Linked DNA regions of Homo sapiens: region 2 is linked to region 1. Evidence: fine-mapped expression QTL. A gene starts in region 1. The other region holds a variant in brackets. All regions are shown on one strand. Distances are from middle to middle.

The links.
Region 2: its variant is fine-mapped to the expression of PERP in thyroid (GTEx, PIP above 0.99).

What each region holds. Positions count from the first base shown.
Region 1 is chr6:138,105,891-138,108,803 of GRCh38, reverse strand. PERP (p53 apoptosis effector related to PMP22) reads left to right here and starts at 1,385. Exons shown (of 3, transcript NM_022121.5): 1 at 1,385-1,677. The coding sequence starts at 1,464. RefSeq lists a silencer at 1,207-1,256.
Region 2 is chr6:138,005,736-138,008,648 of GRCh38, reverse strand. No RefSeq gene overlaps it. Among named protein-coding and RNA genes, the nearest start is that of SIMALR, 61 kb to the right of the region's middle. The variant G/A (reference allele first, on the strand shown) is at 1,336.

The DNA.
Region 1 (2,913 bases):
ATTAACTTTTGGCAGAACACCCTCTTGTGTTCTTTGAAAGTGAAAATATTTTCCTGTAATAAAAATATATGACGTGGTTTATGTAAAACTTGAATTATGTAAAATGAAGGCTAGGGAAATTATTTCATGTATTTTCAGATACTTTCTCCATGCTTTTATTCGTCCTCAAGAATTGCCAGAAAATGGCATAAGTCAAAAGAGTATTCTGTTTCTATTGAGAATATCAAATTGGAATACAATTTAAAATATTTTTAAGTAGTTCCCACTTTTATATTAAATTAACAGAAAAAATAGGGGATTCAGAAGAAATCTTTGGAGGTACAGGGTTAAGACATGACCCCCATACGATGTTTCAGTGATTTTCCCAAGGCCACCGAGGTGCCTGACACTGAGAACTCCTTTGTCCTCAGCGGCACACCTGGCTGCCACCCCACCCTTCCTGTCACATCTTAGGAGTCAGAACTGCGACGGGAGCTAGCCCAGGACACCGAAGGGGGGATCCTAAATGCAGGTTGCATGCTGACGTATGATTTTTATTTGGAAAAACCTCAAAATAGTAAATGAAGAGTAGAGAGAGTGCAGTTTAAATAGGTAGAGATTCGTGATAGGAAGTGGACTGCAGCAGAGGCGACATGAAATTATCTGGGGAAGCCAGATGAAGCCTTTCCGAAAGGAAGCGAGCATTTGTTAAATTACATGTTCATTCATCAAATTCACTGAGCTCCCCTTGAGATCCAAACACGGTGCCGGACACTAAGGATACACAGATAAATTCAGCATCGCCTCCGCTTTCCAAAATCTGGCAACCCAGCAGGAAAGAACAGCATGCAAAGAGATAAGAGTACCCGGGGAGCCACGGTCCAAGGTGCAAAGGCGGAGCCTAGGAGGAAGGGATCACCTGTGTCAGCAGGGGTCAGGGACGGGCTTCTGGGTTTGGGTGCACGCGTCCAAAGGAGTGCAGCCTTTATCCACAGGTGCAATTAGAACACCCATCTCACACTGCTGAAAACTCAGATATGGCACTGCTGACCACCGCCCCACGATGCGACATCAGGGGTCAGATATTAGGCTGGCGCTGTGCAGATAAACAAGTGTATATGTTGGTGCGCCAGGAAGACAAAACACGCGCCTGGAGAGGCCAGGAGAGCGGGACTGGAGGGTTGTGGGACGCGCGGGACCCTCGGGCCGCCTTCCGCCGCCGCCCGGTGTCACCAGAACCCAGCCTGTTTACCAGCGGCCCCGCCCGCCCCGGCCCGGCAGGGCAGGTCGGGGCGGGCGCGCTCTGAGTCACCGGAATCTAGGTGGGGCCGCCCGGAGCGGCGTCCTCGGGAGCCGCCTCCCCGCGGCCTCTTCGCTTTTGTGGCGGCGCCCGCGCTCGCAGGCCACTCTCTGCTGTCGCCCGTCCCGCGCGCTCCTCCGACCCGCTCCGCTCCGCTCCGCTCGGCCCCGCGCCGCCCGTCAACATGATCCGCTGCGGCCTGGCCTGCGAGCGCTGCCGCTGGATCCTGCCCCTGCTCCTACTCAGCGCCATCGCCTTCGACATCATCGCGCTGGCCGGCCGCGGCTGGTTGCAGTCTAGCGACCACGGCCAGACGTCCTCGCTGTGGTGGAAATGCTCCCAAGAGGGCGGCGGCAGCGGGTCCTACGAGGAGGGCTGTCAGAGCCTCATGGAGTACGGTGAGTGCCCGCCGCCGCCGCCGTCGCCGCCTCCAGGAAGCCCTCGGGGCCGCGGCCTGCAAAAGCCGCCGCGCGTGATGGGCCCTCACAGGGTCGGGGGAGCCAGTGCTTTTCAGAATGCCTGTTTAGGACGAGCTCGGGCTCATGCATCCGACCTGAACCAAATGCAGCAGCAGTAGCTTTGGGTGGCCAACACCAAGCTCAGAAACAGAAAAAAAAAAAAGGCCGTAGTTCAAACTGTATAGTTTTTTTCCTGGGTTTTGTCGGTTACGTACGAAAGATTATTTCAAGCATTGCAAGTTTAGATGAGTAAATATAATGAACAAAGTTTCTTGGAGACCTGAAATTTCTTCCCATTTCTCTTCCTTCTCGTTTCTTCTTATGATTAAAATATAAATATTGAAATAACGTGCCTTCCCTAATATCAGTGGATTCGTTCAACTTGATATAGCTGAAAAAACTTTCTCATTTAAAAAAGCCCTTTCAGGCAGTTTTAGCAGTTAACGTTTTCAATAGATATTTCAGTCTACTTTACCGGTCAGGCTAGTTCTTGTTAGCTCTTGTTCTAGGGCGTGTCCTTTGGTTTAAGCATGGCATTGTTGTTTAGAAAACTTAATTATTTTAATCCGATTTGAAATCTAAAAAGCAAACACATTCCCTACACTCGCGACGTGAAGCAGAGTTGACAAATTTAATGTACCTAGCAGGTGAAGTACTGTATGCCATTTTCCCAGCATGGAGGAAGCTCCCTGCTTGCCTTGCTGAAAGTCAGGACTGGAGCATAGTTCTTGTCTGAGAAGGCATTTTCTTTCACAGTGGGAAGCCCCCTCTCCTTTCCTGGGGGTGGATGGGAATCACAGCTGGGGTCTACTGTGATTAGCAATGTGTGTGGGGGTGGAGATGGGGTCTGTGAGAGCCTAATAAAACCTTAAAGCCAAATGGGCTTTACCTACCGGGTTTAATAGTTTTAAACACAGACAGCAAGCTACCCTGCCTGTTTTCATTTCTTACTATTACCATTGACTTGATTTTTTTCTTTGAAGTGGCCCAGGGCTTCCAACCCAATCCTGTTTATTTGTGTTTCCGGGGGACTATATCAGCAACTTGGTGCCCTTTCTTTTGTGTAATCCTTTGGACGTCACTTCCCCACAAAAGGAAGCATGGTCCCCATTAGCCAGGTAATAAAATGTAAACACTGCAGAAAATTCCAGCTTTCTTTGCAGTTTGTGTGTTTTC
Region 2 (2,913 bases), 100 kb after region 1:
GAGTTGACGATGGAAGGGCGCCAGCAGCAGCAGCCTGGAAGAAAGCTACACAGAGAGGTCAGTGGTTCTCAAAGTTGGCTGCACAGTGGAATCACCTGGGGGAGGTTTTAAATATCCCCATGCTCAGGCCTCACTCCTTAAGCCCAGTCTTTTCAGTGATGTGCAGGAGCTGGCTCATTCTGGTTGCAATTCTCTTTCCGACTCTGTATTCAGTGACATCCTTCTGGTAGCTTAAAATTGGCCACGGTGTGACCGGGCGCGGTGTGACCGGGCGCGGTGTGGTGGCTCACGCCTGTAATCCCAGCACTCTGGGGGGCTGAGGTGGGCAGATCACGAGGTCAGGAGTTCGAGACCAGCCTGGCCAACATGGTGAAACCCTGTCTCTACTAAAAATAAAAAATCAGCCTGGTGTGGTGGCGGGTGCCTGTAATCCCAGCTATTCTGGAGGCTGAGGCAGGAGAATTTCTTGAAACCAGAAGGCAGAGTTTGCAGTGAGCAGAGATTGCACCATTGCACTCCAGCCTGGTGACAGAGCGAGACTCCAGCTCAAAAAAAAAAAAAAAAAATTGGCGACAATGTGATATTTGTATTATAGCAATTGACAAATAAGACAAATCACAAATCAGCCCCCACTCCTACTTCGTCGCCTGAGAGCCAGGTCAACGGCACACTGCTCTTGGTATTCTTAGACACTCCCCAGATGTTTCCAATGGACAGCCAACTTTGAGAGCTCCAGGTCAAGGTCAGCTCCTCTTTTGGCCTGTAGTGTCCCGCCAAATAGTATCTTGGGTTCTTCCTTTTCCCCAGTCCTGCCTTTGGGTTAGCATCATTGCATGGGGTAACTGAGCTTGCCTCTAGGGAGCCCGAGTGCAACGTAGAAGAGAGAGTAGAACTGTGGCTTCATTTGTAGCTGTTATTGAGTTTCTTTGAATACAACTTGATTTTCTTTTAGAGCTAGCCAAATCTCTTTCAGTATACCTTTAGGGTTGGATCTATGGGAGGCATGCTATTTCACTGAAGGAGGTGGGAGAAACTTTCAATAATGTTGTGCAATTAGGAACCCTAATTACCCACTCTTGAGATTGCAGTTTCTCATTCGGAGGCATAATTTTCTATGGTGTAATTTGCTAGGTCTGACTCCCCTGCCTGGATCTGATTTGAGTAAAGTGGGCACCGCCCCATCCTAGGGTAGTCTCACTATGGCTAACACACATCAAACTGACTTTCCTGCATCACAAAATCACACTATACAATGCCCAGCTTCATTCCTCTCTCATAGGCCAGATTAGTCATCTTTTGCCTGGTGAAGCAGACTGAAGCATTAGCTCAAAGTAA[G/A]CTACCGCCACCACCACGTGCTGTGCAAATCTGGCTGGACAAACTTTGACTCAGCAAATTTGCAATGCCCCATGGGACACCTAAAAATCCCAGGGACAGAGAGGACCCTTGAAAAGCCAGAAACTGCTCTTTTTAAAAGTGGTGCTGGGCCCTAGAGAACATTCAAAGTTAGAGGGCAACTTTGGTCTCTGCCACGAGGGGGCAGAAGGAAGCTGGAAGGAGGTGGGAGTACAATTGGGATTTATTTTAGGGAGAGGACAAGGGCAACTGAATGGTCGCAGTTAGGTGTATGCACCGTGGGGCTCCTTGGGAAAGATGGGCTGCCAAGGGCAGCTGATTTCAAATGCTTTAAAACCTGATTTCTATAATAGCTTTGTTGCTCAAACACCATCCTGAATAACTTAACAGGAAATTGTTCTCAAAATGCTTTTCTTATCTGAACACTTTTTTGTGATTAGGAAGAATAGAAAATTATAAAGTTAAGAATTAAGGTGTACTGTGCAGGAAAAAAATTAAAGTAGAAACTTCTAAAGAATGTCTTAGTATCAATAAATGAAATAGATGTAGACATTGACTAGATTATAGAAGTGAGGGAAGTTTATAATACTAGCCAGTGCCTTATAAACAGTATCACACCCCTCTCATCAGCTCCCAGGCAGAGGGTGGAGAACTCACCTCGTAATTCAGGTCTGCTGCAAGATTGGCCCTCAGGGAAAGGGTCCCTTCTCTTCTGTCTTACCTACCATCAAAGGATCAGGAGTTTATGATTGTATTTCTTTATGGTTTCTTGACTATTGTTTTTATTTCTTTTTTTCTAGCTTTTCTGTTCTTCATAATAAAATGAAAATACCACTCAGGTTATTAACTCTTGGTGTTTTTTTTTTTTTTGGCAAATCTTTTTATAGTGTTACTGTCTGCTGAATTTCTTTAAGAGGGTATCTTACGTTGGTTAAATATCGTGAGCTAATTTTCTGTGCAGAGTCAGCTGAATAAAGTATTCATTTCTTTTGCTCCAACCTGGTGGCTAGAGTGGATTGCTGAAATAGACTCTTGGAGAAGGCAATACTACAAAAAAAGGAATATGATCATTTTCTTGCTTTTGTTGGGGTTTGCTTGACAGTATCCCTGGCAGGAAGTGATGTGCCTGAATCTTCTCATGCCTCTGCCTACTGTAGGAAAGCCTTGTTTCTGAGAACACTTCCCCCTCCCCCACCACTCTGTCATAGACAATCATGAAAGACTTAAATTACGTTTGTGAAGTTTCTTTTCATATGGGTGTTTCACCGTCAATATCCTTTTTACCAATCCCTAGGCCCCTCCCTACTCTATCAGTGGCAGGTGTTAAAATCTGTTTACTCTTTCTGAAAACTTTCGAGTGAGCCACACCTGTGTCTTTCAATGGCGCTCACAACGATGAAGTCAACCTAAACAAAACTGTGAATCTGGGAAATTTTGATTTTAACATTTTCAAACTCTGTTTTCTTTTTTCTTTAATGATTTACCTTTCAAACAACTTTCTATTTTCCTAATTATTCCCCTTGTCAAAAATAAAATGTTGTGACAAAATCATTTGCACTC